2 separate regions of the Homo sapiens genome follow, and region 1 is linked to region 2. Evidence: fine-mapped expression QTL. A gene starts in region 2. The other region holds a variant in brackets. All regions are shown on one strand. Distances are between the middles of the regions.

The links. PIP is the estimated chance that this variant, and not a neighbour inherited with it, causes the effect.
Region 1: its variant is the best candidate, but not a certain one, in a credible set for the expression of ARNT in prefrontal cortex (GTEx, PIP 0.80).

What each region holds. Positions count from the first base shown.
Region 1 is chr1:150,765,796-150,770,194 of GRCh38, reverse strand. No RefSeq gene overlaps it. Among named protein-coding and RNA genes, the nearest start is that of CTSS, 2.2 kb to the right of the region's middle. RefSeq lists an enhancer at 4,399. The variant C/T (reference allele first, on the strand shown) is at 2,313.
Region 2 is chr1:150,874,421-150,878,819 of GRCh38, reverse strand. It overlaps ARNT (aryl hydrocarbon receptor nuclear translocator), which reads left to right and starts at 2,221. Exons shown (of 22, transcript NM_001668.4): 1 at 2,221-2,277. The coding sequence starts at 2,253. It also overlaps a transcript of LOC107985204 not described here. RefSeq lists silencers at 1,889-2,162, 2,166-2,595 and enhancers at 3,656-4,155, 4,156-4,399.

The DNA.
Region 1 (4,399 bases), 110 kb after region 2:
AAATTTATTTGCATTGCCATGTATAGGGATCATTTGCATAGTTATCAGTTTTTTACAACTTAACTCTAAAAAGAATCAAACAATTCCTGTAAAGGTCCACTAAATAATACCCAGCACATCACTGAAAGGACACCTGCTAATGTCTTTCGCCTGAATAATTTTTCTTAATAAAATGTTAAGTGATTGACTAAAACAAAAAAAATGCTAAGTGAAAAAAACAAGATAGAGAAAAATATGTGTAATATGTTAGTGTTCACTTAAGATGAAAGAATATTAATATATAGGCATATTTGCATATTTCTAAAAATAGGAAGATAAACCATAAATTTTTTAAATGATTACCAATTAAGGAAAAAAGGAAATCGTGTAAAACAGACAAAAGTAGAGGCTAGAGTTCTTTGAATATACCTCATTGTGATGATTTCACTTTGGATCCACATAAATGTTTTACATAATTATAAAATGAAATTACATAAGTGTAAAAAGCAAGCCCTAAAAGGAAGAAGTGAAATGAAACAAATAAACCTGTGTATGGAGGTGGAGCATAACCATACAGGGAACTATTCCAGGTGACTTCAAAACACAGTAATTGACTTACATCGTTAGCGACATTTGGCTTAATGGAGAAAAACCTGTCCCCCTCCACTTTAAAACCTCTAATTTGTTTTCATTAACAATCTTATTGGCGTAGGCTTGTTGTTGTTATTCTGCAATTTTACAGGATAAATTAAACAAGTACTTGAGTTGATATTTTAGAGAACCCAGATTTTTTAAGCATGTTTGAAAAGAAGTGCAGATATAAGATTGATGGGGTGAGTAAACCCTATAGTCTTGAATTTGAATTTGAAGTATCAGTGTCAGCTTGTGATTTATTTAATTTTTTTAAAAAAGATATTTCTTAGCTCTAGCTACTGAAAAGGCTTAGCAACAATGGTCAATCTGCTATCCCAAACACTGCTAGTTCCTAGATTATGGTATTTAAACATTGTTTCCACTAAAAGGAACCAGAGCTCCTTGGAGAAATGGCTGATTCCAGGTCTGGGGCAGGAATTGTTCAAGACAAACCTGCAATAGCCTGTCATATTAGAAAGAAAGGAAGCTTTTAAAGAGTACTAATATTATGCCAAATATACAAACTCTGTCTGCACCAAAGAGCCAGTTTGAATAAATTCCTACAGACCAAAAATGAGACAATATGAGTATCAATAAGGATAAAACTGGAATGGATTGAAACACATCAAATATGTTTAAATCCATGAATTCATAATGATATAAACATAACTCAATGGTTTCACAATATATGGAGCTTATTTAAATCTCAATTCAAACAAACTATTAAAAAATGTATAAGACAGTCCAGAAAATGTGAACATTGATAGGATGTCTGATGACATTAAGAAATTATTGTCTTAATTTCTTATGACAATAAAGTGGCTCACACCTGTAAACCCAGTACTTAGGGAGGCTGAGGTGGGCAGATTACCTATGGTCAGGAGTTCGAGACAAGCCTGGCCAATGTGGTGAAACCCCATCTCTACTAAAAATACAAAAATTAGCTGGGTGTGATGGCACATGCCTGTAATCCCAGCCACTTGGGAGGCTGAGGCAGGAGAATCGCTTGAACTCGGCAGGCAGAGATTGCAGTGAGCTGGGATCACACCACTGCACTCCAGCCTGGGCAAGTGAGTGAGACTCTGTCTCAGAAAAAAAAAAAAAAGAAAATTATTGTTCATTTATTTTAGATGTGATGATGGTATTGTGGTATTATATTTGTTTAATAGTCTCTGTCTTTTAAAGACACACACAGGGACATTTACGTATGAAATGACAGAATGTCTAGAATTTATTTAATATAATTCAGGTAGTGAGAGTGGGAATATAAATAAAATAAGATTGGCCATGTACTGATCATTGTTGAAACAAGACAATGGTTTCACGGCAGCTCATTTTACTACTATTTTTACTTTTACATGTGTTTTAAATTTTCCATAAGCAGTATCTTTTTAAAAAAAACTGTATGGCTACAAACACAAACATGTCTACTACAGCTGAGATGAATCAACATTATAATGATGTTACTTCTCCCTAAATTTATGCATATATTCAAATAAAAACTCTAATAGCCAGATGTGGGGGCTCATGCCTGTAATCCCAGCACTTCAGGAGGCCAAGGTGGGCAGATTGCTTGAGCCCAGGAGTTTGAGGCCAGCCTGGGCAACATGGTGAAACCCCTTATCTACAAAAAACAAAAAACAAAATCAGCCAGGCATGGTGGTGTGCACCTGTAGTCCCAGCCACTCCAGAGGCTGAGG[C/T]GGGAGGATCACTTGAGCCCAGGAGGTCAAGGCTGCAGTGAGCCATGATTGCATCACTGCACTCCAGCCTGGGTGACAGAATGAAACCCTGTCTCCAAAAGAAAAAAGCAAAAAACTCCAACAGAGTTTTTCAGGGAACTTGATAAACTGATTCAAAAAATTCATATAAAGAAGAGTTAACAAGTACAAAATACAAAGACAATGTTTAAAAAGAAGAACAAAGATAGGGTGGCCTAGATGACTTGCCTTACCATACGTGGAGACATATTACAAAGCTGTTTTAATTAAAACTGTGTGATACTGAAGTAGCAAAAGATAAAAAGAACAGCTTCATGAGCTCAGAAACTGACCTATCTATGTATGAGAATTTGGTGTACAATAGAGGTAGAATCAAAATTGGAAAACAAAGAAAATAAGCTCCCTACGTCATACCATACACAAAACTAAATTCCAGGTGAATTAAACACCTAAAAGCAGTAGCCATAGAAAAGATAAATAAAACACTCTCTGAAAGTATAAAAATAAGATGAGTGTATCTTTATTACATTTGGATGAGGAAAATTTTCTTATACAAAAACAGTATAGATTGATTATACGGAAAAGCTGAATAAAATGTTCTACCTCAACATAAAAAAATTTCATATAGAAAAACTCACTATAAACAAGACTAAAGGACAAGTGGAATTTCATAGGCTTATGCAAAGGAAGAAAAAATAAAATAAAAGACAAGTGGAAGACTAAGGGAGGATGTTTTTAAGGGTATATAACTGTCAAAGATTAGAAGCCAGAATATATTTTTAAAACACATACACCTTGGCCGGGCACGGTGGCTCACACCTGTAATCCCAGCACTTTGGGAGGCTGAGGCGGGTGGATCACGAGGTGAAGAGTTCAAGACCAGCCTGGCCAAGATGGTGAAACCCTGTCTCTACTAAAAATACAAAAATTAGCTGGACATGCTGGCAGGTGCCTGTAATCCCAGCTACTTGGGAGTCTGAGGCAGAGAATCGCTTGAACCTGGGAGGTGGATGTTGCAGTGAGCCAAGATCGCACCAATGCACTCCAGCATGGGAGACAAAGCACGACTCCGTCTCGGAAAACACACAACACACACACACACACACACCTCCCACAAATCACTAAGAAAATGCAACAATACAATAGAAAAATGAGCAAAAAAGATGAACAGGAAATTCACAGAAAATTCAAACGGTCAATAAATGTGTGAAAAGATCCTCAACCTCATTAGTAATTAGGAAAATGCAAATTTAAAAGATGATAGTTCGTCTTGCTCCCACCCCACCCAGGTAATCATTCTCAATTGGATATATTTGAGTGTATCCTTTTTTCCATGAATATACTAACACATACACACACACACACACACACACACGCATATTACTAAACTATACATATAGTATATATTAATAAAGACATTTTGAGTTTGATGAACGAAGGAATGGCTGAGTGAGAACCAGACAATATCAGATCATGAATGAGTTGTGTTAAAAGCAGTAAGACAGGTTTTCCTAGGAAATCATACAAGGAGCTGGGATTTGGGGAGCTTTATCTAAATCTCTTTATAACTAAATGTTTTCCATGTAAAAGTTGGTGTTTTTAAAATTCAATTTAATTTTTTTTTTGAGATAGGGTCTTGATATGTCATCCAGGCTGAAACACAGTGGCATAATCATGGCTCACTGCAGCCTTGTCCTCCTAGACTCAAGCAATTCTCCCACCTCACCCTCCCCCTCAGCTGGGACTACAAGCATGCACCACCATGCCCAGCTAATTAAAAAAAATTTTTTTGCAGAGACAGGGTCTCACTATATTGCCTAGGCTGGTCTTGAACTCCTGGCCTCAAGTGATCCTCCCGCCTCAGCCTCCCAAAGTGCTGGGATTATAGGCATGAGCCACTGGGCTCAGACAAGGGCTCTTCTTGATGGCTTACTGTATCCACTTTGTCCCCAAGACCATAGGGAAATGACTAGAGGTGACTGTACTAGCTAGATTTTAAATGAAACTGAAATGAAAGTTCACTTCCTCATTTTGAGTACCTCATGTGACAAGTTCCAATTTCTTTTCAA
Region 2 (4,399 bases):
TAGTAAAGATGGGGTTTCACCATGTTGGCCAGGCTGGTCTCGAACACCTGACTTTGTGATCCGCCCTCCTTGGCCTCCCAAAGTGCTGGGATTACAGCCACCCCGCCCAGCCCAGCCAATGTATTTCTTTTGGGTGGATGATTTTTTTCTTTTTGGTGACTTATAAATATAACAACAAAATGAAAGAAAAATGAAATTTTAACAGATGTAAACAATAATATGTAAATTATGTTAAAATACCTTTGCAGTAAACTAAATAAGTGGATCAATGTAATCTGCGCAGTACATATACAACTTCTAAGAATGCAAAGCTGTTCAATAGCATAATGGGATTTTTGTTAAAATTTTAATTAAATTTGTATTAAACATTTTGTGAGCGATACATGAAAATGGAAGTACTTTGTAGTGCTAAAATTGTAGTGCTAAAATAGGGGGATGGGTGGAACAGGTTTCCAGTGTCAGACTCCTTTAGTTTGCCTCCCACATTACTTACCTGCTGGATGTCCCTTGCTTACCCTCTTTGTTTCTGTTTCCTTAATTGCAAAATGGAAATAGCAGTAGAACCTACCTCATCGTTGTTGTGAGGATTAAATGAGTAAATACATATAAAGCATTTTGGACAGTGCCTACCTCGAATAGCTCAATGCTTCCTATTACCAGGAAACAAAAATTAGCCGGGCGTGGTGGTGCGCGCCTGTAATCCCAGCTACTCAGGAGGCTGAGGCAGGATAACTGCTTGAACCCGGGAGGGAGAGGTTGCAGTGAGCCAAGATCGCACCACTGCACTCCAGCCTGGGTGATGGAGCAAGACTCCGTCTCAGAAAAAAATAAAGAAAAAAGAAAATAAATCTGCACAGCCATCATCTTATTGATTCCCTATTAAAAACTCCTCACTGGCCAGGTGTGGTGGCTCACGCCTGTAATCCCAACAGTTTGTGAGACCGAGGCGGGCAGATTGCCTGATGTCAGGAGTTCGAGACCAGCCTGGCCAACGTCGTGAAACTCCATCTCTACTAAAAATACAAAAAACATTAGCCAGGCGTGTGGCGTGCGCCTGTAATCCCAGCTACTCAGGAGACTGAGGCAGGGGAATTGCTTGAACCGGGGAGGTGGAGGTTGCAGTGAGCCGAGATTGCGCCACTGCACTCCAGCCTGGGCGACAGAGAGAGACTCTGTCTCAAAAACAGACAAACAAAACTCCTCACTCTGTCCCTGTCACTGACCAAAGAAGTTACCCATTCTCAAATTACTTTCTTCATCTATTGCCTCCAATTTTGGCTGGCAATATCTCCCATACCAAACCGTTAACACCTGGATCCTTTTAGACTACCGGTTCCATAGCAGGCATTCAAAAGTTAGTCATTTAACTTTTTCACCAGGGACAAAAGTCCTTAAAAGAGGAAAAAAACTGGAAAGGATTACAAATCACCATGTGATGTTTAGGTGCTCTTTAGCACCTAAAGAGGATTTACAAGATACATTGTCTGCACGGCAACCACTCAGACGAATCCACCACCAAGCGAAGGTTTTTAGTAAAATATCCTTTTTTTTTTTTTTGAGACGGAGTTTCGCTCTTGTTGCCCAGACTGGCGTGCAGTGGCGCTATCTCGGCTCACTGCAACCTCTGCCTCCCAGGTTCAAGCGATTCTCCTGCCTCAGCCTCCCAAGAAGCTGGGATTACAGGCATGCGCCACCACGCCCGGCTAATTTTGTATTTTTAGTAGAGACGGGGTTTCGCCATGTTGGCCAGGCTGGTTTCGAACCCCTGGCCACAGGTGATCCGGCCGCCTCGGCCTCCCAAAGTGCTGGGATTACAGACGCGAGCCACCGCGCCCAGCCTAAAATACCCATTTTAATTGCATTTCAATGACGTTACTCGGTCATTGACCTCTTACGCAAGGAGGGCGAGATTAGGGAGACAGCTGGACTTCTTCCTCGCCCTCCCTTCACTGGACTGGCTGGCGCAGTGAGTAGCCCTGCCCTTGGACGATTTGGCATTTTCATTGGTCAATTTTTCTTAGGAGGCTGGCCGTGTGTTGACTCCGCCTACTATATAGGCGGGGTCTCCCCGCCGCAGGGGCTGGGATGCTGGGGGCTGCTGAAGCCGCCATCTTGGATTCCGCGGTAGCGGAGGCGGCGGTCAGGCGCCGCTTCTGGGGAGTGGCCTTTCTTTTCCCCTCCCTCCCGGTTCGGTGGCGGCGGCTCCTCCCACTGGGGGGGGGGGTGGCGCGGCGGCGGTGGCATCTGCGGCCATGGCGGCGACTACTGCCAACCCCGGTGAGGAGACGGAGGACTGGGGCGCCTCTAAAGGGGAGGGGCCGAAGGGGCTGACAACTAAGGAGACCCAGGGCTGAGGGGACGCAGCTGGAGCTGAAGGCGCCGGGGCGGGGCGGGGGCCGCGAGAGACGGTGGGGGAGCGGTGACCTGGGGAGGGGCCCGATCCCGGGGACTTGGGTAGACTCGAGTATACCCAAGGGAGCGAGGGGGCAGGTGGGAGTTGAGGGGGGCTCCCTGTCCTGACCTCCGTTGGAGCGGCAGCCAGTGCGGGGCTGGCCCGCCCTCACTCCTCGGTCGGCGTCTGGTCTGTGATGTGGTCCTCTTTTAACCCTCTGCCCGCTGGAGCCGCTTGATGCCGAAAACTGTAGGCAGAGTGTCTCGGTTTACTTTAAGAGTAGTTTGGATTCATAAACCCTGGACCACACTGCTCTTTAGTTGAGGCGTTGCTTCCAAACATTTAAAGGTTTAGATTTTAATTTAAAAAATAAAAAATGGACATTCTTTGATATATACGACGTTTCTTTAGGCTGTTACCTCCCACCCGCAACCCCCGTCCCCGTCTCCGTCCCCGGACTATACTTTGAAACTTAGATCTTGTGTTAAGAGGGCCTGTAGGTCTTTGCCTGCTGAGGGCAGGGGTTTGTGTAATGGTTATGGTTCCGGACAGGTCTTTAGTTCCACAGCCCCAGGTTTAAATCTTGTTAGGCCTACGTCGAGGCAATTTCCAAACTCTTTCAGAAAAGTTTGATTCCACACCATTTCTCAATTTCAAAAAATAATCAAATATCAAAAAGGTTTGGTCTGTTTTGTCTAAGAGATGGAGTAGGGTGTAGTGCAGTTCTAGAGAGATCAGATCTTCAAATTACTAGTCCCAGCCCTCTTTCCTCTATGTTACAGTTATTCCTCTTTAGAAGGCATTTCATTTTAGGGGTCTAGTTTATCTTGGAGACCTTGGTTATTCTTGCCAAATAAAGTCTATCCTTTTCCAAAAACCAATATATTTGATAGCCTTAAAAAGGGCCTTGAGATATGTGTGTGTGTTGCGTGGGGCGGAGAATTTCTTGAAAATAAAACAGTAGGAGTGATTACCCCCATCCCCACGTTGAAATTTAAATTAGATTTTTTTTCATGTTACTGAAAGGCAGTATGATTTTGCAATATCCAGATTTTGATAGGACAGTTGAATCACTGAAATTTCTTTTCTACCGTGTTTCTGGGAATAGCTATTTTAAGAAATGGTTAATTTGTCACGTCATTTTTTTTTAATCTTTTAAATTTTTTTTGAAGGAAAGGGAGGTAAAATTAATCGCAAAAATTACATTGCAGGAAGTGCTGAGTGATAGAATAAAACTATAAAACAGGAAAAATGCCGTTATGTCAAACCTGACCTTGTAGTAATATAACCTATCTGTGAACTATGGAATAAATAAACAAGATTTTTAACTGATCACACATTGCAAAATACTTATATAACCCTAGTTAAATTGCAAAGCATTTCTCTTATTAAGAAGTGGCCTGGGTAAACAAGTTTTAGTTCATATGTCAGAAGCTTTTTTCCAGCTGTGTGGGTGGGGTTGCTTTATTTTGTTTTGTTTTTTGAACAACAGCAACCAGAATGACAGCCTCTTGACCATATTTTCATAAGCTGATCAATATCAGCTTAAATCTTAGCAGAAAATAGCATATGTTAGTGTGTATGTGTGTGTGCAGAATCCTTGTTAATGAAACAGCTTTGTTTACTATGCTTTGGCTGCTTGCTTCTGCAATTTTTAGATTTCCTTTTTCTTTTTCTTTGTTTTCCTTTCTCCTCTCCCCTCTCTCCTGTCCCCTCTCCCCTCTTTTTCTTTTGCTACAGGGTCTTGCTCCTTGCTCTGTCGCCCAGTCTGGAGTGCAGTGGCAAGATCACTGCTCACGGCAGCCTCCACCTCAGGGGCTCAAGTGATCCTCTCACGATCAGCCTCCCGAATAGCTGGGACTACAGGTGCCTTGCCACCATGCGCGGTTAATTTTTAAATTTTTTTGTAGAGACAGATGCCTTGCTATGTTGCCCATGCTGATCTTGATCTCCTGGTCTCAAGCAAGCCTTGCCTCAGTCTCTCCAAGTTGGGAATACAGATGTGAG